Linked DNA regions of Homo sapiens: region 1 is linked to region 2. The links come from fine-mapping of genetic effects on gene expression. A gene starts in region 2. The other region holds a variant in brackets. All regions are shown on one strand. Distances are between the middles of the regions.

Region 1 (16,157 bases), 200 kb before region 2:
CCCTGTGGTTTCAGATTTCACCTTTTTCACATATGAAAAAGTTCATATATATCGAAGTCTATTTCTGAATTTTCTACTGTGTTCTAATGATGTATTTACCTGTTCCTTTGCCAATACAATATTAATTTCATTAGAATGGCTTCATGTTATCTTCTGGTATCTAGCATGGCATTTTAAAAATTTTTAATTATTATAGATATATAATTGTTGTATATATTTATTGGGTACATGTGATGTTTTTATACATGGTATGATTTTTTTCATATATTTTTTTCAATGATTGTCAAAAAATCATTGAGATTTAGTGTAATTCCAAAAGAAGTACATATAAATTATGTTTTCTTGTCAGTATGGAGAACAGCTCTTGATTTTGGTACCCTGTCTTCTTAGAAAAGTTAACTCAAAAAATAGTCTTTTCATTTATTGGTGTACAACCATATCATCAGTAAAAATGGATAGTTTTACCTTTTCTGCTGTTTATACCAATTCATTTCTTTTTATTGCCTTCACTGGAATCTCTAAGCCAATATTGAATTCCTGATTTTAAAAAATGGCTTTGGCATAATATATGCTTTGGGGTTTGGGTTAAAAAAAATTTTTTTTAAGAAAAACCGCTTTAAGTGGTTCCCATCTATTACAATGTAAATTAACACATTCTATGAAATGCCTTCTCAGTATCTGTTGAGAGTTCATATGATTCTTCTCCTTTAAACTGTTAATTTGATTGATGCATTTCCTATTAACTGAACTGGTTTGGCATTCTTGGGATGACTCTTACTATGTCACTCTTTGGGTATATGGCTGAATTCTATTTGCTAGTATTTTAACTATAATTTTTGTTTCTATATTCATGAGTAAGACTGGTCTGAAGTTTTCTTTTTTTTTTTTTTTTTTTGACGGAGTTTCGCTCTTGTCACCCAGGCTGGATGGCACGATCTTGGCTCACCGCAACCTCTACCTCCTGGGTACAAGCAATTCTCCTGCCTCATGCCTCAACCTCCCAAGTAGCTGGGACTACAGGTGTGTGCCACCACACCCGGCTAATTTTTGTATTTTTAGTAGAGATGGGGTTTCACCATCTCGAACTTCTGACCTCATGATCCACCTGCCTCGGCCTCCCAAAGTGTTGGGATTACAGGCGTGAGCCACCGCACCCAGCAGAAGTTTTCTTTTTTCAACTATCTGTATTTGATTTTGGTGTTAAAATTTATTCTGACTTAATAAAATAAATGAGTACAGTTCATGGATTGTATTACATCCATATAATAAATAACACTGGTATTACTCTTTCTTTAAAAGATAGAACTAAGCATGAACTCTTCTGAGCCTGGAGCATTTTCCCATTATAGATCTTTAATAGCTTTTTTGAGTTTTTCAATGTTAACTATCCTACCAAGTTTTCTACTTCTTATTGCAGTTTTCATAACTTAAGTTTATTAGAAAAGCATCCACCTCCTCTTTTTAAAAAATATGTTGATTAGAGTTGTATGAGGTATCTTTTTATCACTTAAAAAATCATATTGATATCTGTGGTTATGTCTCCTTTCTCATTCTGGATCAGGCAGTCTTACATGGAGGGAAATCTTGAAAAATGTAGATTCCACATGGCCATTTATTTTCTAATATGGATGACATAGCAACTCAGGGAAGCAGACTTCTTTCCAAACATTGAAATAATTAAAACCTTGGGATTTAGTGTCTAGGACACTTGCAAGGAAATTTATATGAAAAAAATGAATATTCTTGAATTAATTTGCAGAGGGATAGAGAGAAAAGAAATTCTCCTTCAGTGGTCTACGCATGAAACATTTCTGAGTTATACAACCTGTATATAGAATAGTGTATCTAGAATAGTGTAGCAATGCTACTAATTTGCTACAAGATATTTTAAGCAAGACTAAGAAAATATGAACAGTGTACTGTACACCAGGGTGACACTACATTTTGTCAAATAGTTTACAGTGTTTCATTTACCCAGTATCAGGTTCTTAAACTATTCCTTAGCTTGCATTTTTAATATAAATAACTACATTTTAGTAAAATTTTTGGCCAAATTATCCAAATACATTTAAAAACACTGCTTTATTATTTCTGCAGAGGACAGTAACAACCTCTATAGCCATTTACATGTATTACAAAAAGGTGGAAAAATGTAGCTGGTATAATAAAGTTCTTTTAACAATAGTGGGCCATGTTGTTGTTATTTTTTTGTATTGTTAAGACATCAAAAGACAATGATGATATTTAAAGTGGAAAAGTTTTCTGAATGGCATTCTATATGTTGTGTGACATGTGTCTGATATTCACATTTTATGTTAATTTCACATTTACAACTCCAAAATACAAATAATGCTGATTGTATGGCTCACTGTGGAATATACCAGAGTATGCCTTTAAGTCTCTTCACAGATATTTTGTATTCTGCTGTTATTCCATTTAATACATTTTTAAACGTTTACATGCCAGGGTGTCCATGCTTATGTTTGAGAAAGTATTTTCTAGAAAAGTTTGTATCACAATTAGATCATGATTTCCATTATGATACAACACTGTCGGTTGGGCGCGTTGGCTCATGCCTGTAATCCCAACACTTTGGGAGGCCAAGGGCGGGGGGTTGGGGGGTATCACGAGGTCAGGAGTTCGAGACCAGCCTAGCCAAAGAGACCAGCCTGACCAACATGGTGAAACCCCATCTCTACTAAAAATACAAAAATTAGCCAGGCGTGGTGGCAGGTGCCTGTAATCCCAGCTACTTGGGAGGCTGAGGCAGGAGAACTGCTTGAACCTGGGAGGCTGAGGTTACAGTGAGCCGAGATAGTGCCATTGCACTCCAGCCTGGGAAACAGAGAATACAACTCAAAATAAATAAATAAATAAAATAAAAACACACTGTTCAAATTCATTAAAATGATAAGATTTCTCCTAAGGATAAATTCCCTACATACCGGCCAGGCGCGGTGGCTCACGCCTGTAATCCCAGCACTTTGGGAGGACAAGGCGGGCAGATCACAAGGTCAGGAGATCGAGACCATCCTGGCTAACACGGTGAAACCCCGTCTCTACTAAAAATACAAAAAAAAAATTAGCCGGGCATGGTGGTGGGCACCTGTAGTCCCAGCTACTCGGGAGGCTGAGGCAGGAGAATGGCGTGAACCCGGGAGGCAGAGCTTGCAGTAAGCCGAGATCGCGCCACTGCACTCCAGCCTGGGTGACAAAGTGAGATTCCAACTCAAAAAAAAAAAAAAAAAATTCCCTACATACCATGAAACCAGATATTTTGCTCAAGTATTTCCCACAATTATTAAGTTTTCATTCCTGTAGGCATTCTTCCGAGCATGAATTTTCTGATGTCTGCTGAGGTTTGGCTTCTGGTAGAAAGCTTTCCCACATTCATTGCACCCATAGGGCTTCTCTCCTGTGTGAGTTCTCCAATGTTTATTGAGGCATGACTTCTGGCTGAAGGATTTTCCACATTCTCTGCAACGATACGGTCTTTCTCCTGTGTGCATTTTTCGATGTACATTGAGGTATGACTTCTCACCAAACGATTTCCCGCATTCACTGCAGACAAAGGGTCTCTCTCCTGTGTGTGTTCTCTGATGTTCTGTGCGGTGTGACTTCTGGGTAAAGGCTTTCCCACAAAAAAAACATTCAAAGGGTCTTACCCCAGTGTGAATTCTCTGGTGTTTGATGAGGGTTGACTTATGTGAAAAGGCTTTCCCACAGTCAGTGCAGCCATAAGGCTTCTCCCCAGTGTGACTTCTCTGATGCCTAATGAATTCAGACTTGTAGCAGAAGGCTTTCCCACACTCACTACAGACGTGGGGTTTTTCTGTAGGTGGAACCCTCTTCCGTTTGTACAAGAGAGAATCACTTACTGCTGGTTTATACATAAGTGCCGGGTTCTGGGTGAAAGCTTTCTCACAGTGACTGCAACCCCGGGGCTTTTCTCCATTAGGTCGTCTACCATGATTTATACGCTGAAGCAATTTCCCATAAGCATAACACTCATCTTGCTTTTTTGCACAGTTTCTCTTAAAACCAATCAAGTCTAAATTATGGTTCAAATTCTTTCCACAAGGGTTCCAGTTACTAGGGCTCTGGATTGAAGAAAAAAGATCAGTGCTCAGAAGTGATATTTTCCCAAACTTATTATATTCACAGCTTTTCTCCTTGGGCAATGTTTTCTTGCTTATGGCTGCGCCTGGCCTCAAAAGCATGTCTTGCCGTCTTTTCCTCTGGATATTAACTCGCCAGATGTCTTCTGGAGAAAGTACAGTGAATCATCCTTATGAAACTTCATACTACTTAAGAAATGCTCTCAAAATTTAAAGAGTGCACAGCACACAAATAGAGAACATGAACCATAACCCAAAGCACAAACGCAGGGAAGAGTGTTCTATGAGTAAAGAGGATTCTGAACACTGGCACAAATGGAATTCAATATATCATAGAGTATAGAGACCAATAATTTCAAAGAAAATAGGATATTACAGAGCAGAGGTTGGCAAACTTATTCTTAAGGAGTCAGAAAGTAAAGGCTTTGTGGGCCATATGGTCTCCGTCACAATGACTCAACTCTCCCGCCATACCATGAAAATATAGACAACATGTAAACGTAAGAATGTGGTTGTGTTCTAATAAAACTTTATTCACAAAGCAGGTGGCCAATCGGTAGGCCACAGTTTGCTGATCCCTGTTACAGAAGAAAGAAGGTTAAATGTTATACAGTACCTTGCTATCCAGCATGTGGGTCTTCAAGTGGCAATTTTGGCCTTACTTGGAGCTTGTTAGATGTGCAGAATCTAAGGCACCGCCCCAGACCTACTTAATCAGACTCTGCATTTCAACAAGATGCCCCGGTGATTCCAAACACCTTGGAGCTTAACAAGCACTGGTATAGCAGTCATCCAAGGGAATATCATGTTGGGCTAGTTAGTTACAATATAAACGGTAAAGCACTCTAAGGTGAAACAGATTAAAAAATAAAATCAACAAAGCTAACTAGGACTTAAGCAAGAGTTCTTAACTTGGCAGAAAACAGGGGGCTTGTGAACTTTGATAGAAAAGAAATTACATTTTTGTTTTCACTGAGTTCCAACTACAATTGAACATTTCCTTTGAATATGAATATAAGCAACAAAACACAGTGGTATTAGTGGTTCCTGTGACTTGATACTAGTTTGTGAATATTGTTATTTTCATGTCACATTATTATGTTTATAATCATCTCTTCTTTGAGATCATGACAGTTATTAGACCTGATGCTAGGCCTCATTAACGTATAAATGAAAAAGTACATCTACTATTATATTGCACATTTTGAAAATATTTTGAAGCTGGGCGCGGTGGCTCACGCCTGTAATCCCAGCATTTTGGGAGGCCGAGGCAGGTGGATCATCTGACGTCAGGAGTTCAAGACTAGCCTGACCAACATGATGAAACCCAGTCTCTACTAAAAATAGAAAATAAGCTGGGCGTGGTGGCACACACCTGTAGTCCCAGCTACTCGGGAGGCTGAGGCAGGAGAATCGCTTGAACCCAGGAGGAGGAGGCTGCAGTGAGCTGAGATCATGCCATTGCACTCCGGCCTGGGCGACAGAGTGAAACTCCATCTAAAAAAAAAAAAATTTTTTTTTGATAACTATTTTCTAGCTTATTTTGATAATTACTGTACTTTAGTCATTTATTTTATAATCTTATGAACGTTATTATATTTTTATACATAGAAGTGAGGTCTATAGCCTTCAAAAGAATGCCTAAGAAGTCCATGGCACAAAAATAATTAATAACCCCTCACTTAAAGACATTCAGTCATGAGATAATCTGGGTCTCATTTTAGGAGATATCAGTGGAAAATTAAAAGTGGGGCTGGGTGCAGTGGCTCACGCCAGTAATCCCAGCACTTTGGGAGGCTAAGGCGGGTGGATCACGAGGTCAGGAGATCAAGACCAGCCTGGCCAAGATGGTGAAACCCCATCTCTACTAAAAATACAAAAATTAGCTGGGGGTGGTGGCACGTGCCTGTAATCCCAGCTACTCCGGAGGCTGAGGCAGAGAATTGCTTAAACCCAGGAGGCGGAGGTTGCAGTGAGCTGAGATGGCACCACTGCATTCCAGCCTGGGTGACAGAACAAGACTTCATCTGAACAATAACAACAAAAAAAAGTGGAGAAGGACTGGGCATGGTGGCTCATGCCAGTAAATCCAGCACTTTGGGAAGCCAAAGCAGGTGGACTGCTTGAGCCCAGGAGTTTGAGACCAGCCTGAGCGGCACTGCAAAACCCCTTCTCTACAAAAAAAATGAAAATTAGCCAGGTGTGGTAGCACGTGAATATAATCCCAGTTACTCGGGAGGTTAAGAGGTGGGAGGATCGCTTGAGCCCAGGAGGTCAAGGCTGCAGTGAGCCATGATCATGCCACTGCACTCCAGCCTGGGTGACAGAGTGAGACACTGTCTCAAAAAGAAAAAAAAAAAGCAGAGAGGAAGATTTAAAGCCATTTCTCAGAAGAAAAAAAATCAACAAAACCACACATATGAATGGAACAGTTAGAGTGAGTGGTAAAGGCAGAAGATTCAAAATGACCACACGGTAGCAAAGCCCTGGAATAATAAGCAAGATGAAGTGGTGTGTGTGTGTGCGTGTGTGTGTGTGTGTGTGAGTGTGAGTGTGTGTGTGGCAGGGGTAGCAAGGACAAATAAAGATGATTTTAGTTTTTGACACACAAAGAACAGGGTAAGTGCACACCTGTAGTGTAATCCACAGACTGGTTAAATGCGGGGGTGGGCAGTGCAAGGGGGAAAAAAGGGCCCAACATGGCAAAAGGGCTGGTTGTGAGAATCATGTACTCTCAGAATGGGTGAGTTCTTTGAGAGGATTACACCACTGGAAAGAGAACCAAGTTATGGAAAACAGAAAATGCAATTGTTCCTTGGAAGGAAAATGCTGGGTTTGAGCCAGGGAAATAGATAGTAACAGAGTAGCTGGAAAAACGGGAGGCTGACTAGATACATTCTTGTGGAATTTGCAGTTACGAAATTTTCAGAAGAGGAGAAGAAAAGAAGAGGAGGGCAACTGATAACCGGGATACCACAGTCTCAGGACAGCTGAAGAGCACAGTTTAATGGAGGAACACACTCCAGAGAGCGCCAGAAGCAGAAGTTCAGAGGCATCCCTAAGAGTGGGCCATCCATCAGCCCTCAGGGTACAATGGATATTGCTGGAATGTCTTACAGAGCTGAAGGGAGAGGGGCAGTGAGTCTGAGGGTTAATCAGCAGTGGTTAAGATGGGCCCAGCTCAGCCATTTCCTTCACACCTCCCCACCCCAACATGGAATTCACTGCTTCCTCTTCTCTGATCCCACAGTCATCTGTCTATGGGAGTGATTTAAATTTGAGTGCAGAAATTAGGGAAAGCAGGTAGCTCTGAAGCATTTTATCTGGAAAGTTTGTCACAACAGAGAATAGGAAGCAGGAACAGGAGAATCATAGAAGCTTTTATTTGTAAGAATACCTGCATGGGAAAGATTCTGGAGAAAGAGAGATGGACCAAGCACATAAGGGCAGAGGTGCAATCAAGTAGAGCCGAGAAAAACACTCAGATATGGGCGGTGGGGTTGCATGGAGGTTGAAGAGTCATTAACGTGGCTGAAGCTCTCGGAGGACTTTCAAGGCTTTTAAGAGAAGAATGCTGAACAAAATTCCAAAGGTGCCAGCCTCCTTCAGTACCCCTTTTGCTAGATTTATCACACTTACCCCAACAGTGGCAGCCCGGGCATGCTGCCTCACCAATCCATGGTGCTTCTTCCTGCTCCAGTCTGAGGATCACATCTGGTTTGGTGCCTTCATAACCTGTTCCGGGGAAATTGATGCAGGTCTTGGGCTGAGCTCCTTGGTCTTCAGGGCCTCTCAGGCAGCTTTAAAGGCTGCACAATAGATGTTATACTTGGGAGGGGACTAAACACACACCTTGTCCAGAACCAAATGGGATTAGTAATCCAGGACCATGGAAACTCAAGCCACACCCACTGAGGCAGCAGCACAAGGTAAGAATGCATTCTGTGCTGCCAGAATGCTGAGGTTCAAATCCTGACTCTGCTATCTACTAGCTGGGTGACTCTGGGCAAGTTACTTCACCTCTCTGTACCTCAATTTCCAAATGTGTAAAAAAGTGGTACTAATAGTAACTACCTCATAAGGCTTTTATGAGAATGAAATGAGTTAATATTTTTAAAGTGGCTAAAACAATTTCTGGCACATAGAAAGTGCTAGATAATTATTAAATAAATATTTCAGAAGTTCTAGAGTACTTCCGTTGCTTTTTTTTTATTTTTTATTTTTTGAGACAGTTTCGCTCTTGTTGCCCAGGCTAGAGTGCAATGGTGCAATATCGGCTCACTGAAACCTCTGCCTCCCGGGTTCAAGCAATTCTCCTGCCTTAGCCTCCTGAGTAGCTGGGATTACAGGCGCCCGCCACCACACCTGGATAATATTTGTATTTTTAGTAGAGATGGGGTTTCAGGGTTTCACCATGCTGGCCAGGCAGGTTTCAAACTCCTGACCTCAGGTGATCCACCTGCCTTGGCCTCCCAAAGTACTCCAGTTGCTTTTAGCAACTGAGAAAGGAAAGGTGGTCATTCGAACATAATCTGCATTGTATGGTGAGGATGTTCTTACCCACTGAGACGAGGTTGCTATAGGTTTCCAGCATCACATCCCGGTACAGGGCCCTCTGAGCAGGACTCAGCCGGTGCCACTCCTCTTGGGTGAAGCCCACAACCACATCTTTGAATGACACAGGTATCTGTTGAAACAAAAATGACATTGAGTCATGTCGAAAAAAAATGTTTGTGCAGGGCCAGGCATGGTGGCTCATGCCTATAATCCCAGCACTTTGGGAGGCCAAGGTGGGAGGATCAGGAGTTCAAGATCAGCCTGGCAAACATGGTGAAACCCCGTCTATACTAAAAATACAAAAATTCACCAGGCATGGTGGTGCACACTTGTAATCTCAGCTACTTGGGAGGCTGAGGTGGGAGAATCACTTGAATCTAAGAGACGGAGGTTGCAGTGAGCCGAGATCGCACCACTACACTCCAGCCTGGGCTAGAGCAGGAGTCCATCTCAAAAAAAAAAAAAAAAAA[T/A]TTTGTGCAAGAGATGGTGCTGATTTTTATAATGTTTATAAGTTAGAGCTTATTATCTATCTGGAAGGCCTTTTATATTCTTGGCTTTGTGTTATATATGGTGGGGAAAAAGAAAATCACATTGGAAGCTATCTACCATTGCCATCCATACTTTGAGTCAACAAACATTGAAGACCCACTGTGTGTTGCTGGGGTCACAGTCATAGATGGGTCCTGACCTCAAGGAGCTCACTGTCTGGCACAGAGAGAGCAACATGTAAAGCCATCAGGGTAAAAATGTCACAAGAGCTGTGATGGCAGGACATCTAGGCTATGGCATACAGAGAAGCGAATGGTCTGTTAAATTTTTCAGGTTCTGGTTAGGCTTCAGAGCCCAGGGATATGGAAAGCTGACTCTCCTCCGCAGGAAGATGGAAAACTGCATTCTATGCAGGGGAGCAGTGGGAACAAAGGCCGGGGGGCAAAACGGTGATTTTAGGGGTGGCAAGTTACTTAGTAACAAGAGAAAAGTATGCAGAGGTCGGCCAGCAATGAAATGATGGACTTTAGGGCCGGGCACAGTGGCTCACCCCTGTAATCCCAGCACTTTGGGAGGCCGAGGTGGGTGGATCACCTGAGCTCAGGTATTCGAGACCAGCCTGGCCAACATGGTGAAACCCCGTCTCTACTAAAAATAGAAAAATTAGCTGGGCGTGGTGGCGGGCGCCTGTAGTCCTAGCTACTCAGGTGGCTGAGGCAGGAGAATCTCTAGAACCCAGGAGGCAGAGGTTGCAGTGAGCTGAGATTGTGCCACTGCACTCCAGCCTGGAGGACAGGGTGAGACTCTGACTCAAACAAAAAAAAACAAACAAAAAAAAGAAATGATGGACTTTAGGACAATGGAAACTCCATCCAAGAAGAAGTGTATGCAGAAAGTATATTCTAGAAGGCATGAGGTGAGCTTCTTGCATTCTATGTGAAGTGGTATAATGATAACTCTAAATAAACTGTGAAAAGTAAGATATATATTGTATCCCTGAAGTAACCACTAAAATCATAATGTGAGGTGTGCCTGATCTAAATAAACAGAATTTTGAAAAATGTTCCATTCATCCACACTAGCACAACAAAAGAGAGGAAAGAAGAAATAGAGGAACAAAAGAGTAGACGGGATAAACAGAAAACAGACACTAAAATGACAGATACAAATCCAACCATACCAATAATGTAATTTAATAAAGATTATATGTAATGTAATTTAATATAAATTGTGGGGAAAAGAGAGATCAGATTGTTACTGTGTCTGCGTAGAAAGAAGTAGACATAGGAGACTCCATTTCGTTCTGTACTAAGAAAAATTCTTCTGCCTTGAGATGCTGTTAATCTATAACCCCACCCCCAACCCCGTGCTCTCTGAAACATGTGCTGGGTCAACTCAGGGTTAAATGGATTAAGGGCTGTGCAGGATGTGCTTTGTTAAACAGATGCTTGAAGGCAGCATGCTCCTTAAGAGTCATCACCACTCCCTAATCTCAAGTACCCAGAGACACAACACACTACAGAAGGCCGCAGGGACCTCTGCCTAGGAAAGCCAGGTATTGTCCAAGGTTTCTCCCCATGTGATAGTCTGAAATACGGCCTCGTGGGAAGGGAAAGACCTGACCATCCCCCAGCCCGACACCCATAAAGGGTCTGTGCTGAGGAGGATTAGTATAAGAGGAAGGAATGCCTCTTTGCAGTTGAGACAAGAGGAAGGCATCTGTCTCCTGCCCGTCCCTGGGCAATGGAATGTCTCGGTATAAAACCCGATTGTATATTCCATCTACTGAGATAGGGGGAAACCGCCTTAGGGCTGGAGGTGGGACATGCGGGCAACAATACTGCTCTGTAAGGCATTGAGATGTTTATGTGTATGCATATCTAAAGCACAGCACTTAATTATTTACCTTGTCTATGATGCAGAGACCTTTGTTCACGTGTTTATCTGCTGACCTTCTCTCCACTATTATCCTATGACCCTGCCACATCCCCCTCACCGAGAAACACCCAAGAATGATCAATAAATACTAAGGGAACTCAGAGGCTGGCGGGATCCTCCGTATGCTGAACACTGGTACCCTGGGCCCCATTATTTCTTTCTCTATACTTTGTGTATTTTTCTTTCCTAAGTCTCTCGTTCCACCTAACGAAAAACACCCACAGGTGTGGAGGGGCAACCCACCCCTTCATAAACTGAACACTCCAGGCCAGGCATGGTGGCTCACCACTGTAATCCCAGCACTTCAGGAGGCTGAGGCAGGCAGATCACTTAAGGTCAGGAGTTCGAGACCAGCCTGGCTAACATGGCAAAATCCTACCTCTACTAAAAATACAAAAATTAGCCAGGTGTGGTTGTGCGTGCCTGTAATCCCAGCTACGCAGGAGGCTGAGGCAGGAGAATCGCTTGAAACTGGGAGGCAGAGGTTTCAGTGAGCCCAGATAGTGCCACTGTACTCTACCCTGGGTGATAGAATGAGACTCTGTCTCAGACTAAACATTCCAAAAAGGCAGAGATCATCAGACTGAATTAAAAAAAAAAATGCTGCCTACAAGAGATGCACTTTCAATGTAAACTCACAGGCAGTTTTAAAGTCAATGGATGGAAAGAGAAGTGTGGTGGGTGACCTGGAGGGACGTGAGAGGAAAGACCCTATAGTAACCTGGGTGAAAGGTGATGTTCACAAGCAGGACAGTAACCGTTAGAGAAAGATGGAACGCTGTAAAGAAGAGCAGACCCCATTCTGCATGGTGTGATAATTTCACATTGCATGATGCCTGTACCAAAACATATGCCCATAAATACACACACCTACTAGTACCCACAAACATTTTTTAAAAATTAAAACAACAAAACAAAACAAAAAGAAGAGCAGAACCTGCACCTTAACTGGTTGTGGGAGGGAAAGAGGGTAGGGGCAGGGCAACACCCAGGTATCTTGAAGGCAACCGGGTGATGATGGCGCCACACCTGGAGATGAGGAAACCATGAGGAACAAAGAGGAGGCTGTTGTGCTGGACCTGCCTGGGGACCACGTGGACATGTGGGTTTTGTGTCAGGAGCAAGATCAGGAATGGAGCTAAAATGCTGAGCATCAGCACAAAAGTGAGATTCCTCTGCAAGACGGGGAGAGCAGGGTGCCCAGGCCAGAGCTCCAAGGGACACTAATATTTAAGAAGCCAGCAGAAGATGAGTTCAGCAGGAGATCCAAAGGAGGAATAGTCTGAAAAGAAGAAGTCTTGACCGCCTGGCAGGCCTCGGGTTATGGGCACAGAGAACAAAAGTTCTCTAAAGAGCTGATAGCCCTGGAGATGCCAGCATAAGTTGTGAAGGAGCAGGACAGTCACTGAGGGAGACCCATGGGTACCAGCCTAGGAAGGTCCTGGTGATCCTGTCTTTAAGTGACTGTGTGGTAAAGAATTTGACCTTGCCAAAAGAGAGGTGTGGCCTTTGCCCTCAGCTCCTGGAAAGTAATCTCTATACTCTTGGAATGTCCTAAGAGTGTCCTTGTTTACCTAGTGGTCTTGGGCCACACTAGATAGTCTAATGATGTGGTTTATAATGAGGGCTTTGGGTCACAGGCATCAGCTCAACCTCTTGGAAGGGCTGGAAACTGAGGTCAGTGGTGGGAACAGTCAAGCCTTTCTACATGATCAACCACCAATAAAAAGTGGACACCAGGGCCTAGGTGCACTTTCCTGGTTGGCAAGGCTCCGTCTGTATTGGCACACATTACTGCTGGGAGGATTTAGCACTGTTTGGGACTTCCATAGGAGAGGACAGAAGTTCTATGTGTGGAACTCTCCTAAACTCTGCTTCATGAGCCTCTTCTCTTTGTTGATTTTACTTAATTAATTAATTAATTTATTTTGAGATGGAGTCTTGCTGTGTTGCCCAGGCTGGAGTGCAGTGGCGCAGTCTCGGCTCACTGCAACCTCCGTCTCCTGGGCTCAAGCGATTCTCCTGCCTCAGCCTCCTGAGTAGCTAGGACTACAGGCACACACCACCACGCCCAGCTAATTTTTGTATTTTTTTTTTTTTTCAGTAGAGACAGGGTTTCACCATGTTGTCCAGGCTGGTCTCAAACTCCTGACCTCAAGCGATCCGCCTGCCTTGGCCTCTCAAAGTGCTGGGATTACAGGCGTGAGCCACTGCACAGGGCCTTGGTTGATTTTAATCTGTATGCTTTTGCTGTAATTGTAACAATGAGTATAACAGCTTTCAGTGAGTTCTATGAGTCCTTCTAGTAAATTAGAAAACCCAAAAGTGTTTTGAGGGAGACCCTCAAACTTGCAGTTGGTGTAGAAGTGAGGGTCTTGTGGACTGCTCCCTAACTATATGTGACCACATAACATGAGATGCAAAGCAGTGGATTGGGGCTGGACTGCCTGAGTTCAAATATCAGCTCAGCCTACCCTGGGAAAACTATTTAGCCTCTCTGTGCCATAGTTTCCTCATCTGTTCAATGGAAATAATAATAGTATGTGTGTCTTAATTACTATGAGGTTTAAATTAGTTAAAAGGTGTAAAGCCTTTGAACAGTGCCTGGCACATAATACCATTATATAAATTTGCCTATTTTATTTAAGAAGAAAAATCATATAAATCAATATTTTGAAATCTGTAAGAAAGGGAAAACAATTCTGGCCAGGAGCGGTGGCTTAATGGCTGTAATCTCAGCACTTTGGGAGGCTGAGGAGGGTGGATCACCTGAGGTCAGGAGTTCAAGACCAGCCTGGCCGATATGGTGAAACCCCATCTCTACTAAAAATACAAAAATTAGCCAGGGTGGTAGCACATAGGCGGGTGGATCACCTGAGGTCAGGAGTTCAAGACCACCCTGGCCAACAGGGCAAAACCCCATCTCTACCAAAAAGACAAAAACTTAGCCGGGCGTGATGGTGCATGCCTATAATTCCAGCTACTCAGGAGGCTGAGGCAGGAGAATTGCTTGAACCTGGGAGGCAGAGGTTGCAGTGAGCCGAGATTGTGCCACTGCACTCCAGCCTGGGCGACAGAGCGAGACAACATCTCAAAAGAAAAGAAAAAAAGAAAGGAAAACAATTCTAAAGGACAAAAAATGGGGACTCAGTGCCTGTGCAGTGGGCTTTAAGTAGGGTAGGTAGCTCTATTGCAGTGCTGGGGCCACTGGCCTACCACCTCCAGGAGTGGCCGAAGGAAAGAAGCACCGAAGTGGCTCTGAGAGCAGCCCAGGCCCACGCCCCATTCTCAGGAGGCTGCAGACCTCCATGAGGAATGCTGGGCTTCCAGCAGCACCTGAGCAGTAGTAGCCCAGGCAAATGGGCCTAAAGGCAGGACCAAAAGCAGGGCAGGGGCCATGGAGGCTGGCACATGACACACTAAGACTCACATAGAGGGCACAGCGCACAGGGGGTGCCAAGCAAACACCCTCCCTGATGCCAGAACAACACACCAGGGTAGTAAGAGCAGCAGTCAGGGCTGATCACAGGGCACAGTGACAGGCTCTGGGTCAATATTTCCCAGGAAAAGATACAATTCTGCACCCAGGAAGCCATGCCATTTCCACAGAACACAGGAATGAAGAGGCAGCAATCACTGAAGTTGTGGCCAGGTGTGGTAGCTCATGCCTGTAATCCCAGCACTTTGGGAGGCCGAGGCAGGAGGACCACTTGAGCCCAGAAGCTCAAGACCAGCCTGGGTAATATAGTAAGATCCCATCTTTACAAAAAATAAAAAAATTAGCTGGGCATAGTGGCATGCGCCTATAGTCCCAGCTACTCGGGAGGCTGAAATGGGAGGATCGCTTGAGCCCAGGAGTTCAAGGCTCCAGTGAGTAAGACCCTGTTTCAAAAAAATAAAAAGAATCACTGAACTTTTAAAAATTAGCACGGCATGGTGACTGGGTAGAAGGAGGGGGAAAAGTAGGGAGGAAGTCAAGGGTAAATCTCAGGGTCCCGGCCTGCCCGATGGGATGGCACCATCTCCTGTGATGGGAAACTGAGAAGGGATGGAGGAGGAGGCAGGAATGAGAAACTCAGGGAAAGGAGAAGTCTTCTCAGGACACAGGGCCCTTGGGGGCTGGGAACACCTCACACTGAGACATTCCCAGGAATAAGATGTGTAACTGTTTGCTACCAAACTAGAACACACATATAAGAAGAATGACAGTCATTTAAATGCTGGGCAGTACATCTGTTCCTCAGTCCAGATCAAGGCTACAGCTGCCTTGGATCAAATTCAGGGCTTCTGTACACTTGAAGCAGCCCTCTGACCCCTTAAACAGAAATCATTCCTATTGGCCAGGCACGGTGGCTCACGCCTGTAATCCCAGCACTTTGGGAGGCCGAGGCAGGTGGATCACGAGGTCAGGAGATCGAGACCATCGAAACCCTGTCTCTACTAAAAATACAAAAGTTAGCTGGGTTTGATGGTGGGCGCCTGTAGTCCCAGCTACTTAGGAGGCTAAGGCAGGAGAATCGCTTGAACCAGGGAGTCAGAGCTTGCAGTGAGCCGAGATCGTGCCACTGCACTCCAGCCTGAGTGACAGAGCGAGACTCCGTCTCAAAAAAAAAAAAAAAAAGGCCAGGCACGGTGGCTCACGCCTGTAATCCCAGCACTTTGGGAGGCCGAGGCGGGAGGATCACAAGGTCAGGAGATCGAGACCATCCTGGCTAACACGGTGAAACCCTGTCTCTACTAAAACTACAAAAAATTAGCCGGGCATGGTGGCAGGCGCCTGTAGTCCCAGCTACTCAGGAGGCTGAGGCAGGAGAATGGCGTGAACCCGGAAGGAGGAGTTGGCAGTGAGCCAAGATTGCACCACTGCACTCCAGCCTGGGCGACAGAGAGCAAGACTCCAACTCAAAAAAAAAAAAAAGAGAGAAAACAGAAAGAAATCATTTGTATTTTCACTTTCTTCTCACTGACATGCAGCATTTCCTTCCATTATATATGTGGATCGCAAGCAACAGAAGAGTTAGGACTTCCTACAGCTTTGACACAGATAGAAAACAT
Region 2 (16,157 bases):
CAAAAAAAAAAAAAAAAAAAATTCAGTTGGATGTTTCTAGTGACATATAATAATGTCCAGAAACAGAAGAGCTGAAGAAGCAATTATACAGCTTGCAAGCGTAATTCAGAGGAAATATAGACAAGTCAGGACTTGCTAGCTTGGAAATAAAATTATTTTACATCTTCAGTCTCTCCAGCCAGCACATGTCTCAAAATAAAAAAATAAACTCAGAGTAAAGTTCGAATCAAAAGTTTGGCTAAAAGACCCAAACTTTAGAACCTCTGAAGTGTTAAGGGGATGCCTAGTGGAGTCTCCACGCTGGACAAAAAGGCTTCTGAGATTCTTATGGGCATTGTCCCATAGCACCGACACCTTGCCAAAGATGTGAGGCCTGTCTGACTGTGATTTCAGCTTTTGTTTAATAGAGCAGTCCCAAATCTGGTACATGGGAAACCCATAGAGCTTTCAAGGAAGTCCAAAGGATCTGAAACAGTTCAAAATGGAGAGGCCTCCTCTATGCTTAATTCCTGTCCTTTCTGAATGGGAGCATCTACTGCAGTATCTCTCTCTCACCACTGTATGTTAGGTAGGGAATGTTTGGGGTGGAGGGAAACAAATGACTTGCCTTTTTAGTATACAGGTATCTGACTCAAAAAGGATCCAGTGAAGAAGCTTTAGCTACATCCAGACTGTTACACATAAGATACTGGACTTTTGAATCAAGATGAAACTTTTGGGGATCTTGGGAGGGGGGTGAGTTAATCTTGCACATGGTAAGGGTATGAATCATTGGGACCAATAAATCATGTCTCCCTGTATCTACTCCCTTATGTTATCCCGTTCTATGACGACTCTGGACTTGGCCATGTGACTTCCTTTGGCCAAAAGGACATCAGTGAACATGACAAAAGCCAAAACGTTAAAACTACTTGTTAATTGGGGCTGTCCTCTCTTCCTGCATAGAGAAACCCAAGACCATTTGACCAAGCCCAAGCCCACATGGAAGAGAACCAAGAAGAAACTAGGCACCCCAGCCAACCAGCTTCCTGTCACACATGGATAGTCCTCCAGCCCTGGTCAAAATGCCAGCCGACTGCAGCAAAATGACAAGACCAGGTGAAATCTGCAAAACCTACCTGCGGCCAGCCCAAAATATGAACCTACCAAATTATGTGCTAATAAGTGATTTTGTTTTAAGCCATTGATGTTTAGGATTGTTCATTATACAGCAAAGGCTGATACACTGATAGAGGGATCACGTGATATGAAAAATACGTGGTGACTAATGTGACCGTTGGCTTGCTGGGATGCCCATGATGTCAGAAACTCCTAAGCTAGTCTTGGAGAACAGCAGATTCAGTCCTCCCATTTCTCACTCACTCCTGGGCATGAATTCATTAAATGGGAAAGGAAACAGATTGACCTGACCTACTTTTATTTTTCTCCTCTTTTTTCAGCTGAGTGGATAAAAAGTAAATGTATCTAAGTTAAAAGTACACAAGGCCAGACGCGGTGGCTCACGCCTGTAATCCCAGGACTTTGGGAGGCCGAGGTGGATAGATCATGAGGTCAGGAGATCGAGACCATCCTGGCTGACAAGGTGACACCCCGTCTCTACTAACAATACAAAAAATTAGCCGGGCGTGGTGGTCGGCACCTGTAGTCCCAGCTACTCGGGAGGCTGAGGCAGGAGAATGGCGTGAACCCAGGAGGCGGAGCTTGCAGTGAGCTGAGATCGTGACACTGCACTCCAGCCTGGGCGACAGGGCCAGACTCCGTCTCAAAAAAAAAAAAAAAAAAAAAAGTACACATAAGATGACTCCCCTGTGGTAACAATAAACACACTTTCAGACTGAATAATCAGAACATGACATCAGACAACAGGATACAATATTTGAAATGAAGACTGTCCTAAATATCTAAGACACTGAAATGAGGCACTAAAGGTTTCTGAAAAGTGATGTTACTGCAATGTTGGGGAAAACGAGGATTACAGAAACATGTAGTGGGTGGCAAAGGACCATGTCAACATTTGGAAACAAATCAGGATACTATGTGAGCTTTCATGTGAGAGAAGAAAGAGACCTAAGTTGGCAGGTCTACCCCGGTAATCAAAATCTGCACAGTGTAATAATTAAAATAAAAGCAAATAAAAGTTGTACAGTAGGGCTGGGCGTGGTGGCTCACACCTGTAATCCCAGCACTTTGGGAGGCCGAGGCGGGTAGTTCACCAGAGGTCAGGAGTTCAAGACCAATCTGACCAACATGGTGAAACCCCATCTCTACTAAAAATACAAAATGAACTGGGCACGGTGGCACATGCCTGTAATTCCAGCTACTTGGGAGGCTGAGGCAGGAGAATCACTTGAACCTGGGAGGCGGAGGTTGCAGTGAGCTGAGATCATGCCATTGCACTCCAGCCTGGGCAACAAGAATGAAACTCCATCTCAAAAATAATAATAATAATAAATGAATAAAATAAAATAAAAATTGCACAGTATAAAGAAACACATGGTGAAGAAGGGAGTCTCAGAAAAGAAAGAAGTAATTGGAAGTTCAAATTCTTTAGAACTGGCAGGGTTCAGGGCCAGCCGCGGTGCTCATGCCTGTAATTCCAGCACTTTGGGAGGCCAAGGCAGGTGGGTCACTTGAGGTCAGGAGTTTGAGACCAGCCTGGCCAATATGGTGAAACCCTGTCTCTACTAAAAATACAAAAATTAGCCTGGTGTGGTGGCGGGCACCTGTAATCCCAGCTACTCAAGAGGCTGAGGCAAGAGAATTGCTCGAACCTGGGAGGCAGAGGTTGCAGTGAGGCGAGATCGATTGCACCACTGCATCCCAGCCTGATGCAGTGGGACAGAGTGACAGAGCGAGACTCTGTCTCAAAAAAAAAAAAAAAAAAAACTGGCAGGGTTCAAATCTCCAACTGCTGTGGGTGCCCAATGCTTCAAAACAGTCATGTCTATTCACCTTGTCATATTTTGTATGAGAATAAAAACCTATATAAGAATTTCATGTACAAAGCTGATCATAGAAGTATTATTTGCAACAGTTAAACATTGGAAACAGGAGTCCAAAAATTGGGAAACAATGGATGAGTTCATCCATTCAATGGATTACTATGGAAATTATTTTCAGTGGGATAAGTGTTGGCTGTTTCTACACCTTTAAAAATAGAGCTGGGTAGATACACTGCCAGTAACTTTACTCCATTATGATTTTACCATTAGGGCCTGTCAAAATATGTTTGCAGGGGTGTGAGCGCATATAAAATTAAATTAAATCCAAATGAGAAAGGAATCCTAAAATAAAATGGAAGACTCCTGAGTGTGCAGACTGTGTTTTACCCATCATTAACTGTAATCTACTGAGTGTTCTGCACATAGCAGACACTCAAGTTTGTTGTATGGCACCAAGGAAAAGGAAAAATGCTAAGAAAAAAAATAACATAATGTGCCTGCCAGTTCATCTCATTGTTACAAATTTAACACAAATTTTAATTTATCCTCTCAGGCAAAGGTCCTTGGCAGTAATACCTAATGTCCTAAGATAGTCTTGCTTTGATTATTTTGTATAATTCAGATGCCATGCATATCAAGAGTATCTGGAAATTCTACCCAACGCTCCTGAAACATGTGATTAACCACATGCCCAAAATAACAAACCAAAGCAAACAACAGAAACTCCTTTGTTACTTAGTTCCTTCAAATCGTTTACTTAAGGTTGTGATTCCTTCATGCACCAAACATTTCATGTGTGCTAGGCATGAGAGACACAGAGGTTTCATCTTAAACAACTATTTAAATGCTCATGCCCTTTAATTTTTCCTGAGTAAATACTATGTTAAAAAGCTACATTGAAGAACAAGTTGTTTATATACAGGAGGCAGTTCCGGGTAGACCTACTGAGAATGAAGGAGGTGGCACAGGAAAAGTCAGCTACCACAAACTTCTGACTTTTCCCAGCCAATCAGAAAGAATGCTTCCCTGGTAACACTGGGAGTGGTGAAGAAAGTACACACAAAAAGGCTGGGTGCAGTGGCTCACACCTGTAATCCCAGCACTTTGGGAGGCAGAGGTGGGTGGAACACCTGAGGTCAGGAGTTTGAAACCAGCCTGGCCAACATGGCGAAACCCCATCTCTACTAAAAACATAAAAATTAGCCGGGCGTGGTGGCATGCACCTGTAATCCCAGCTACTCGGGAGGCTGAGGCAGGAGAATCGCTTGAACCCAGGAGGCGGAGACTGCAGTAAGCCAAGATCGTGCCACTGCACTGCAGCCTGGGTGACAGAGCATGACTCCGCCTCAAAGAAAAGAGAAAGTACGCACAAAAAATATTCAATGTTACCTTGGGAAATGTCCTGAATTGGATTTCTTATGTATTCCTGGTATTAACACTCTCAAATGAATTAACTATTTTAGAAATGAGAAACAGAATTCTCAGTGTTGCTCTGATAACATCCAGGAATGCATAATCCCCACCACTGGAGTCCAGAATTAAGAAATCTCTTTTCCTGTCTAAATTCCACTCAGATTTCTTGATAAGGATAGTCAAGGCAAATCTGAAATAACCAAGTTAACCCATATCAAAAATGACTGTTAAACAGCCTGGCAACTGTGTTGGTGCTTAATGAATGTTAATTGCATTCAATTAAGTCAGGGGCATCATCGTCACCAATCTCAGGGCTTAGAAAAGCTTCCCCTCGGCCGGGGGCTGTGGCTCACACCTGTAATCCCAGCACTTTAGGAGGCCGAGGCAGGCGGACCACCAGGTCAGGAGTTCAAGACCAGCCTGGCAAACATGGTGAAATCCCGTCTCTACTAAAGATACAAAAGATTAGCTGGGCCTGGTGGCGCCACCTGTAATCCCAGCTACTCGGGAGGCTGGGACAGGAGAATCGTTTGAACCTGGGAGGCAGAGGGTGCAGTGAGCTGAGATCGCACCAGCCCGGAAGACAGACCGAGAATCCGTTTCAAAAAAAAGAAGAACGCTTCCCCTTAAGTCCTTATACACAGTCAATCACTATTTCCCACATACCATTGACTTCCTTATGTCAAGTCCCTTCTTAACATCCTTCAAAACTCAGCTTACTCAAAGACAAAGTCTACCCTGCTCAGCCTGGCACTCAGCATTTTCTGATTTGTCCCCACCCTGACCGAGAGGTGGAAAAGGCAAACCCTTCAGGGGTCAGGTAGGTAATAAAAATGAGAGGGGGGTGAAATGTTAGGTAGTCAATGGTTTCAACCTCAGTATAAAGGACACTGCAGAAAGTGCAGCTGATACTCTGAAGGTCACGTCCAAATGATAAAGACGTTGTTCAGCTCAAATTGTCTGACACCAAAGAACAGTGCAGATTTAGGGCAGATTTATTTTCAGAGAAGCAGGGAATCTGGAATTTTGGAAATGTCCCAATTGCCAGAAGCTGAAAGTGCTCTCAAATGTAAAATTCAGGTCAGACTATATCGAAATTCTCCTTGTTCTATGTGTGAATAGATAGTCTGTATCTTAACATATGTATATTTATTTATTTATTTATTTTGAGATGGAGTCTCACTCTGTTGCCCGGGCTGGAGTGCAGTGGTGCGATCTCAGCTCACTGCAACCCCCGCTTCCCAGGTTCAAGCGATTCTCCTGCCTCAGCCTCCCGAGTAGCTGGGACTACAGGCGCTTGCCACCATGCCCAGCTAATTTCTTGTATTTTTAGTAGAGACAGGGTTTCACCGTGTCAGCCAGGATGGTCTCCATCTCCTGACCTCGTGATTCGCCTGCCTCAGCCTCCCACAGTGCTGGGATTACAGGCCTGAGCCACCACGCCTGGCCAAGGTTGATTTTTAAATATGCATAGGTAGCCGGGTGTGGTGTAATCTCACTTGTAATCCCAGCACTTTGGGAGGCCGAGGTGGGTGGATCATGAGGTCAGGAGATCGAGACCATCCTGGCTGACACGGTGAAACCCCGTCTCTACTAAAAATACAAAAAATTAGCCTGGCATGGTGGCAAGCGCCTGTAGTCCCAGCTACTCAGGAGGCTGAGGCAGAAGAATGGTGTGAACCTGGGAGGCAGAGTCTGCAGCGAGCCGAGATGGCGCCACTGCACTCCAGCCTGGATGACAGAGTGAGACTCGGTCTCAAAAAAAAAAAAAAAAAAAATTCAATCTTAAGCAAGTCCACTGGCCACCATAATCCTTCCACACTGAGAGTCCAGCCTCTGAAACTATCTATGCTTCCTTGCCGCCTCCCACTGGAATGCCTTCCCCCCAATCTCCAACTTAACAAACCAGTCAGGGGCAATTGAGACAGCCCTACTTCTAGGAGGCCTCCCTAACCATTTGAAATCACAGGCATCTGTGCTGTCCCTGCCCTTCATCCACATCACTGAACAATTACGCATGTATGTCTCTTTACTTTTATTTAAACTGCTCCATATGTGTTGTTCACAATTAACTACTTCATGAGTGACTGCGGTAAGGATGGAGCAGAAAGGAATGCTGAGGGAAGACTCCTGTTAGAACGAGGCACTCTTCCAGGACTAGGAATGAACTCAAAGGTAAAATTCAGGTCAGACTATGTTTGGAGCCGAAAAGACCAAAGGGATTGTGACCAACTCAGCATTCCACTGGAGGTTATATGATTAAACGGTAAACTGTTTATCATGAATGCAGGATGTGAGCAAACGCACACTGCCACCAAAAGATGTGCTGAGAGCCATCACTGCCTGGCGCCTGGCTCCTTGAAGTGATCTACCAGGAAATCTAGCGCCTATTGTTGGAAGGATGCAGTCTTGCAATTGCGAACCAAACGGCCAACTGACAATTACCTGACAATCACCACCCCCTAACTTGTTATCTGTTTTACCAATAAATACGGGAGGGTTGTGTAAAGCTCAGGGCCCTTGTCCACTAGAGACAAAGTGCCCCCGACCCCTTCTTCCAAATATACTTTTTTGTTTCTTGTCTTTTATTCCTTTTGTTCAGTCCACCAGGTCCGTGCAGGTTACAAGTGGCGCCCTGAACAGCGACAGAATCGGACGCTCTACAAGACTATATCAAAATCCTCCTTGTTCTATGGACTAGGAATGACTAGGGCTAGGAATGACTTTGCCCAATACCAACAAGGCAGCCTCCAGGACAAGAAAAGGTAATGGGACCCATTCTGTTGACAGCCAAGATAGAATTACAGTTAATTCTCACCTCTTTTTTGGCTCTCAGGAGCCCTGTGGCCATTTTCCTGGTCTCCTGAGTGCTCTTCCTGGAGAAGGGCAAAGTCTCAGAAGACAGATCTGGGGATGTGAAGAGAAATAAGAGTGGCCTAGGTGGAAACACCCTCCCCACGAAGTGAAGCGCAGTCCGCTCCAGAGCCCCACAGTTGGGGTCTGGGATGTCACAGAAATCACCAGAGCAGCCAATTCCCATCCAGTGGGGGGCCAGGATGACCCAGCCACCCTCAAGCTCAGCCGCAAGCTCGGGACAGGGAGTGAAGCCCTTGTCCCCAAGCAACGGAGTGAGGGTTTATCTCTAACCCTGTGGGCTCGAATGAAAGGAAAATGGCCTGGAGGTGCCCAAAGGAGAGCGCCCTAGTTCTGAGATAGCTCTGCGGCTCCCAGCCGGCGTCCCCGTAACACAGGGACACGCAGAGGGGCATGCTGACTGCCTATAGGGCACTCACGGAACGCGGGTGCACGCTGCGGATCCTGAAGCCGAAAGTCAGGTAACAAGGTGCAGAGGTGTGGGAAAGACCTTAAGAGGGAGGCCTTCCCGGGTCCCAACCAGCTTAACGCGCCTGGGCCACCGACCGGAAGTGTTTCTGACGTCAACGCTACACACTGAAGGGTAGGGAGGGGAGCGGAAGTGACCGCAGAGGCCTCTGGGGATTGTAGTTTCGGAGCTACAGAGGCGGAGAAGTCGGCTTTGCCCACCACACAGGGTGACTGACATCTGCACAGCGCACACAACCAAGTTTACGAACCCACTCTTAAGATGCCCAAGTGACGTTGACAAGTTTCTCTGTAAACCAATGAGATCTGCTGACCGCGAAGGCATCGCGGGACTGCCGAAGGATTCTGCAAAATGTGGTCCCGGTGCTCTGCGGGTGGCCAGTGTGCGCTGACCTTCAAGGTGCGGGTGAGCTGAGCTCACTACGCAAGTCTCCGCCCTGATGCGCCCTTCCCTGAGCAGGTGCCAGGTCGGGACAGACGCGGCTCAGGGAGAGACGATGCTCTGCGGGAACCACCAGTTTGGAGGCGACACCGGCCCTTTGTCCCCTAGAGTAGGAGGGTGTACCAGGACAGGGAACCCCAAGGCTATTTTCGCGGAGAGCAGGATTGGTTTGGGGCAAACTCCCGGAATGCAGATGGGGGAGACTGGTCGCGTGTCCCTAGGATTTTAGGGGATGCAGACTGAACTTGGGGTGAACAGCAAAAGATCCCCTGGTGGTGGTGGGGATCCGAAGCTTGATCAGGAAATTCCCGAGGTTTTTATTGGAGGCTGGGGTACAGGTGCGGCTTGGAGGAAACTTCCGGAGGGTGGGGTGGAGGTGGGGCGGTGTTGGAAAGGAGGCATAAGTCTGACCGTTTTGTTCAACAGGGGTGTTTTCTTTTTGCATTGATTTTATTTTTAAAGATATTACATTAAAATATTGTTTATCTTGATTACTGAGTTTTTTTGGTGACCCTTTAAATTCTGTATCCACAGTCCCCAGCATTTACAGAAGTGAGGGCCTGGCTTCTAGGGCATCAAGCAGCCAGAAAGTCCCTTAGGACAATTGTTGAATTGTCAGTGAGTCATCTTTTCCTTTCCTGACTTCCTTAATATCCACAATTTCCTCGTAACCATCCCTCCAAAGCCACACCCACAAGGCACCTCCAAGACCTATCATGAAGCAGATATTCAAAGATTATTTGTAAATCTTCACACCCTACCCCCTCCAGAATGTCTTCCAACATCCCTTTGCCTGGAGAAGTAAAAAACAAGGTTTGCATGTTGGGTATCAGCCTCTCCCATTGAGAGGGTGTTTAGGAAGGAGGATCAGCCGAGAGCCCTATTCCAGCCCAGGTAAATGACCCGGCCAAAGATTTAATATCTATAAATGTAGAATGCTTGTCACAGAACTCAGTGGGAACCACAGTCAGGCATGGGGCTGGGATTTAAGAAGCACAAATGAAAAGCAGGGACTAGAAAACTTAAGAAAGATATGGTAGGGGTGGGGGTGGGGGTACAGTGAGGATGTGGGATCCTGAGATAATCCAAATCACTATGTTTAGATGTAGGTGTACAAAGGGAGTAAAGAGAGACCCAGGCTGATGGGGTATTTGTAATAAATCAAACATAATGTAACAGCAGGTCAAGTAATAAGGGGACTCTCAAGTGATAAGGATCAAGTGATAAACAGTGAAAGGGGCAGAATGAAACTCTACAGAAATTAACAAACATCAACAAGACATCTAGGAAAGCATTTACAGCTGCATTCATTTAAATGAAAGGTGATAGTTACTCAGTGCTGTGTGCCAAGTACAATGATACACTCTCACCTGAGTTACCCTTGTAAATCTGAACCACTTGTCATTATCTGTGCTTTAAGGAGTCCTATTTTCCACACTCTTAACTGGCTTGAGATGTGAAAATCCATCTAAATTATAAACGCAGTGGGGAAGAAAAAATCTAGTCATGCCCATCAAGGGAACATGTCTAGTTAAAATTAGCATAGATAAAAATCAGCAAAAAACAAAAAAGCAAATTGAAAAAATATTCTTTGAAATTAAAAGCCATACAAACCACTGTGTCACTGATGAGTTAAAGAAGAAACTGGCCTGCAAACCAGAAAATACACTGGAAGAAGCAATAGTTAAAATACTTCAGATCTAAACCTGTAGAATGAGGCTACCTCAGTTCCAAATATATCAGCTTAAAAGTAGTGGCAAAAAGAGCAAGAAGTTGGCCAGGCATGGTGGCTCACGCCTGTAATCCCAGCACTTTGGGAGGCCAAGGTGGGCAGATCACCTGAGGTCGGGAGTTCGAGACCAGCCTGGCCAACATTGCGAAACCCCATCTCTATTAAAAATACAAAAATTAGCTGGGCGTGTAGGGGTGGGTTGCCCCTACACACCTGTGGGTGTTTCTCGTAAGGTGGGACGAGAGATTTGGAAAAGAAAAAGACACAGAGACAAAGTATAGAGAAAGAAATAAGGGGACCCGGGGAACCAGCGTTCAGCATATGGAGGATCCCGCCAGCCTCTGAGTTCCCTTAGTATTTATTGATCATCTGTGGGTGTTTCTCGAAGAGGCGGATGTGTCAGGGTCACAAGACAATTGTGGGGAGAGGGTCAGCAGACAAACACGTGAACAAAGGTCTTTGCATCATAGACAATGTAAAGGATTAAGTGCTGTGCTTTTAGATATGCATACACATAAACATCTCAATGCTTTACAAAGCAGTATTGCTGCCCGCAGGTCCCACCTCCAGCCCTAAGGCGGTTTTTCCCTATCTCAGTAGATGGAGCATACAATCGGGTTTTATACCGAGACATTCCATTGCCCAGGGACGGGCAGGAGACAGATGCCTTCCTCTTGTCTCAACTGCAAGAGGCATTCCTTCCTCTTTTACTAATCCTCCTCAGCACAGACCCTTTACGGGTGTCGGGCTGGGGGTGTCGGGCTGGGGGACGGTCAGGTCTTTCCCTTCCCACGAGGCCATCTTTCAGACTATCACATGGGGAGAAACCTTGGACAATACCTGGCTTTCCTAGGCAGAGGTCCCTGCGGCCTTCTGCAGTTTTTGTGTCCCTGGGTACTTGAGATTAGGGAGTGGTGATGACTCTTAAGGAGCATGCTGCCTTCAAGCATCTGTTTAACAAAGCACATCTTGCACCGCCCTTAATCCATTTAACTCTGAGTTGACACAGCACATGTTTCAGAGAGCACGGGGTTGGGGGTAAGGTTATAGATTAACAGAATCTCAAGGCAGAAGAATTTTTCTTAGTACATAACAAAATGGAGTCTCCTATGTCTACTTCTTTCTACACAGACACAGTAACAATCTGATCTCTCTTGCTTTTCCCCACATGGGCGTGGTGGCCACTGCCTGTAATCCAGCTACTTGGGAGGGTGAGGCAGGAGAATCACTTGAACCCAGGAGGCAGAAGTTGCAGTGAGCCAAGATTGTGCCATTGCACTCCAGCCTTGGCAACAAGAGCGAGACTCTCAAAAAAAAAAAAAAAAAAAGCAAGGAGTTATTAGCTCTATACACTTTTTTTTTTTTTTTTTTTTGAGACAGAGTCTCACTCTGTCGCCCAGGCTGGAGTGCAGTGGTGCCATCTCGGCTCACTGCAAGCTCCGCCTCCCAGGTTCACGCCATTCTCCTGTCTCAGCCTCCCGAGTAGCTGGGACTACAGGCGCCTGCCACCTCGCCTGGCTAATTTTTTTGTATTTTTAGTAGAGATCGGGTTTCACCATGTTAGCCAGGATGGTCTCGATCTCCTGACCTCGTGATCCACCCGCCTCAGCCTCCCAAACGCTGGGATTACAGGCGTGAGCCACCACGCCCAGCCAAGCTCTATATACATTTATAGAAGAAACTTCTAATTTGAAAAACTCAAAGTTTTAAGTAACAATGATCACAAAAGGGGAAGAACAAACTTCCAGAATCTTGGGGACAGAGGGTGGTGTGGTGGGAAGAGAGGGAATTACTCTGTCACCAATGAGTCAAAAAAGTTATTAAAGATTAATTTTAAATGAATAAAACTAAAAACCAAGACTTACAGAATGAGACTAAAACCATGGCTGGAGGAAAACTTTTAGCCTGAAAGTAGCCTATGACTTAGAAATTAAGGCAGAAAACTAAGGAGTAAGCAGTTACCCTTCAGGTTAGAAAACCAACAGAATAACAGGAAATGAGAGAGGGAGGAAATAATCAGATGGGGCTGAGATGGGGGCTTATGGGGATGAAGGAGGCAGGAAGAGCACATTAAGTCTGTGCATAAAGTCACTCCCTAAGGACAGTCCCTGAGAGGAAAGTGGGTGCACAAGGATCAGGCTAGGTGTAAAAGGTGACAGGCAACCCTGGAGGGTACATTCAAGGGTTGACAGTGGCTAAGAAAACAGGAGGGAAAGTCAAGTGTTGAGCCTTTCCTGTCCCTAGCATGGAAGACATCAGGAGCTGATGAGTGAAAGTGATAAACACCATTCTCATCACCAAAAAAAGTCAAGTATTTGAGGTAATGGATAGGATAATTTGACTTAAACATTCCACACTGTATGGAAAAATCATAACATCATTTTGTACCCCATAAATATATACAATTTAAAAGATAGGTAAAAATCAGAAAAAAATTGAAAAAATATTCTTTATTTTTCAAACATATATAATTTATGGAGTACAATCTAATTCATCAATGTATATGATTTTTTTTAATGGTAAGTCAATAAACACAGCAAACAGTCCCTTGAGAGGCAGAGAAGGAAAATGGGCACAATCTGCCCTTAGAAAGACACAGCATTTAAATCCACGCATGTGAGAACTCCAGGATTCAAGACTAGGGGTCAAAACACAACCTGGTTTATCACCTATAGCCACAGGATGGCACCAACACCCACTGCTCCAGCCTGAGCTGGCCAGAGAGAGAGAGCATCCAGGAAAAGCTGGAACCTCCCAGAAGGCCTGAGACCTGCAGGTACCACACTGTAGTCCACTGAAGAGGAGGGCCCAATGTGAGGGGGAAAAAACCACTGAGGAAACATAATATTTGTGTATTTTTAATAAGATATTTAATACGTGTTCAGGTAGAAGTAGGTACAATGACAGAAAATAAGGTAGAGGAATGTGCTAGACACCACAGATACGTAATGATGGACAATAAATGACATGATGTGGAGAGTTCACCCACACATGCAGACTTCTTATGTTCACATAAACATTTATCTGCATGCATCACCCAGTAGAGACAAACTGCACTTACACTGTGAAGTCAACGAGGAGATAAAGTAAAAATCAAATACTTATGGAGAGAGTCAGTCTCTCCATTTAGTGGGAAACCCTTCAGAACACGCACACAGCATCTCCCCTCCCTTCTGAATACCATCCATAGCCTGCAGCAGTAGATGGCAAATCACAGCCTGGGCCACCCTTCCCAGAATGTCAAAAACATGGACATGCAGACCACAGAATTCACCAGATACCCAAGCTGGGTGGTGCGAGGCTCTGAAAGACATGCTTCAAATAAGAGGGACTAGAAAACTCCGCAAGGGAGCAACAGGGATCAGGGATTCCAGGAGGATCCAGGGGCCTGTGCGAAGAGCAAGCAGTGAGCAGATGTGTGTGTCAGTGATTCGGTGGCATGAACTCAACACCATCTAATACAGCAGCTCACGTTTCTTTGTGCATCAGACTCACCTGGGGACTTGTTAAACACAGATTGTTGGGTCTCACTCCTAGAGTTTCTTCTTCAGTATTCTGGGGAGCAGCCTGTGAATCTGTATTTCCAGCATGATTTTCAGGTGCTACTGATACTATTGGTCCAAGGACCACACTATGATCTAATTTAACATCAGATTAGGGGAGGAACTAAGGAGCAAAGAAGCAACAGAATGGACCTGAACCCTGTACGGGCTTCTCTGTAAACTCCTCAAACATAAAAGCCTTCGAGACACTCAAAGAGCATTTACAGCATCATGTCTACAAATACAAGGCACCACGCAGGGAGTGCTCCATCAAGTAGAGAGAAGAGCTCACTGAGTGTCCCTGTCTTAGTCTGTTTGTGTTGCTATAACAGAATACCACAGACTGGGTGATTTATAAGGGTTCACTTGGTTTATGGTTCTGAACACTGGGAAAGTGAGGGGCCTGCATCTGGTGAAGGTCTCGCTGTGTTGTCCTATGCTGGAAGGTAAAAGGGCAAGAGAGTGACCACATGTGAGAGGGAGAAGGGGAAAGACAGAAAGGGAGGAAGCCAACCTCATCCTTTTATCAGGAACCCCCTCCCAAGATAACTAACCCACCCTACCTTCATCCATTCATGAGGGCAGAGCCTTCATGACCTAATCACCTCTTAAAGGTTCCACTGATCAACACTGTTGCATTAGGGGTTGAGTTTCCAACACATGAACTTTGGGGAACACATTCAAACCACAGCAGTCCTCATGTAAACCTTCCAGAAAATCTGTGTGCCTGGCACTCTGGAATCCCTCTTTTCCACCCTTTCTCTTTTTTTCTTTTTTTGAGACAGAGTTTTGCTTTTGTTAACCAGGCTGGAGTGCAATGGTGCGATCTTGGCTTACTGCAGGCTCCACCTCCCAGTTCAAGTGATTCTCCTGTCTCAGTCTCCCAAATAGCTGGGGTTACACGCATGCACCACCACACCCAGCTAATTTGTATTTTTAGTAAAGATGGGGTTTCTCCGTGTTGGTCAGGCTGGTCTTGAACTCCTGACCTCAGGTGATCCGCCCGCCTTGGCCTCCCAAAGTGCTGAGATTACAGGCATGAGCCACCGCACCTGGTCTTTCCGCCCCTTCTCACTGCAACTCTAACATTGTGTTCCCTCATCATTTTCCATTCGAGCACAGGAAAGAACACAATCACTACACCCATTTCTTATGAACCTTTCTGACATTAAAATAATTCTATCACTCACATAGAAATTTGTAAAAATAAATTTTCATTTTTGATACGAGCGAGTATGATTTTTTTTTTTTTTTTTTGAGGAGTTTTGCTCTGTGGGCCAGGCTGGAGTGAAGTGGCAAGATCACGGCTCACTGCAACCTCTGCCTCCGGGTTCAAGCGATTCTCCTGCCTCAGCCTCCCAAGTAGCTGGGATTACAGGCCTGCACCACTACACGAATAATTTTGTATTTTTAGTAGAGACGGGGTTTTGCCATGTTGGCCAGGATGGTCTCAAACCCCTGACCTCAGGTGATCTGCCCGCCTCGGCCTCCCAAAGTGCTGGGAAAACAGGTATGAGCCACTATGCCTGCCCCTGAATATGAAATTCCGTATTAGTTTAATGAAATCTCTAAAATATATAGAAAATAAAAATAATTACCAAAAATGTTCAATGATGCAAAGCAACACACAGTGAGATATTACATCCTAAAACATATAGACCTGTCATTTAAAAATCAAGTAGAAACATAAGGGGCTCTATACACACCTTTTGAAATAAGTTTCCTGGCCAGGGAAAATGGCTCATGCCTGTAATACCAGCATTTTGGGAGGCCGAGGTGGGCGGATCACCTGAGGTCAGGAGTTCAAAACCAGCCTGGCCAACATGGTGAAACTCTGTCTCTACTAAAAATACAAAAATTAGCTGGGCATGGTGGTGGGCACCTGTAATCCCAGCTACTCGAGAGGCTGAGGCAGGGAGAACTGCTTGGACCCAGGAGGCAGAGGTTGCAGGGATCCGAGACCTGCCATTGTACTCCAGCCTGGGAGACAGAGCAAGACTTCATCTCGAAAAAAAAAAAATTATAATAATAAAATAAAATAAGCTGTCTAGGTTGTGCATGGTGGCCCACCCTTGTAATCCCAGCACTTTGGGAGGCTGAGGCGGGCAGATCACTTGAGGTCAAGAGTTCAAGACCAGGCTAGCCAAAATGGCAAAACTCTGGCTCTACTAAAAAGACAAAAATTAGCCAGGCATGGTGGTGCACATCTGTAATCCCGGGTACTCGGGAGGCTGAGGCAGGAGAATCACTTGAATCTGGAAGGCAGAGTTTGTAGTGAGATGAGATCACGCCACTGCACTCCAGTCTGGGCGACAGAGCGAGACTACAACTCAAAAAAAAAAAAAAAAAAAAAGCTTTCTAATTTAACTTTAGAATTTGAAATTCTTTCAAGAAAGAGGTACTCAAAAAACATGAAAAGTATGTGAGTCACTAATGTATCAAAGAAAACAATCATTCTTGTATTGCAAATAAATACCCAACCAAGACAAAAAGGCACGTCACATGTTATGGGAAAAGACTGAAATGAGGGTGAGAGGAAAACTGTGACCCTTGAATGTAAGACAGAAAAAAATCAGGCAGGATGTTAAGGAATTGGAAATAATTCTCCATATTAAAGGATTACAAGAGACAGGAAGAGAGGAGGGACACGATAGTCACAGACTGCAGGGGTGTGGGGTAGATGGGAATAAAGGAGGCAGAGAGAGCAGTGGGGATGTACATAAAATCACCCTCCAGAGCTGTGC

What was found.
Region 1: its variant is fine-mapped to the expression of ZNF875 in whole blood (INTERVAL, PIP above 0.99).

What each region holds. Positions count from the first base shown.
Region 1 is chr19:37,525,004-37,541,160 of GRCh38, reverse strand. It overlaps ZNF793 (zinc finger protein 793), which reads right to left. Exons shown (of 8, transcript NM_001013659.3): 6 at 8,679-8,805; 7 at 7,758-7,853; 8 at 1-4,264. The coding sequence ends at 3,282. It overlaps LOC124904708, which reads left to right. Exons shown (of 2, transcript XR_007067248.1): 2 at 7,033-8,310. Among named protein-coding and RNA genes, the nearest start is that of ZNF571-AS1, 16 kb to the left of the region's middle. RefSeq lists an enhancer at 10,365-11,187. The variant T/A (reference allele first, on the strand shown) is at 9,146.
Region 2 is chr19:37,326,274-37,342,430 of GRCh38, reverse strand. ZNF875 (zinc finger protein 875) reads right to left here and starts at 7,782. Exons shown (of 5, transcript NM_001353803.2): 1 at 7,649-7,782; 2 at 7,174-7,262. The coding sequence starts at 7,206. RefSeq lists enhancers at 7,618-7,717, 6,891-7,832, 7,928-8,037, 7,833-8,775.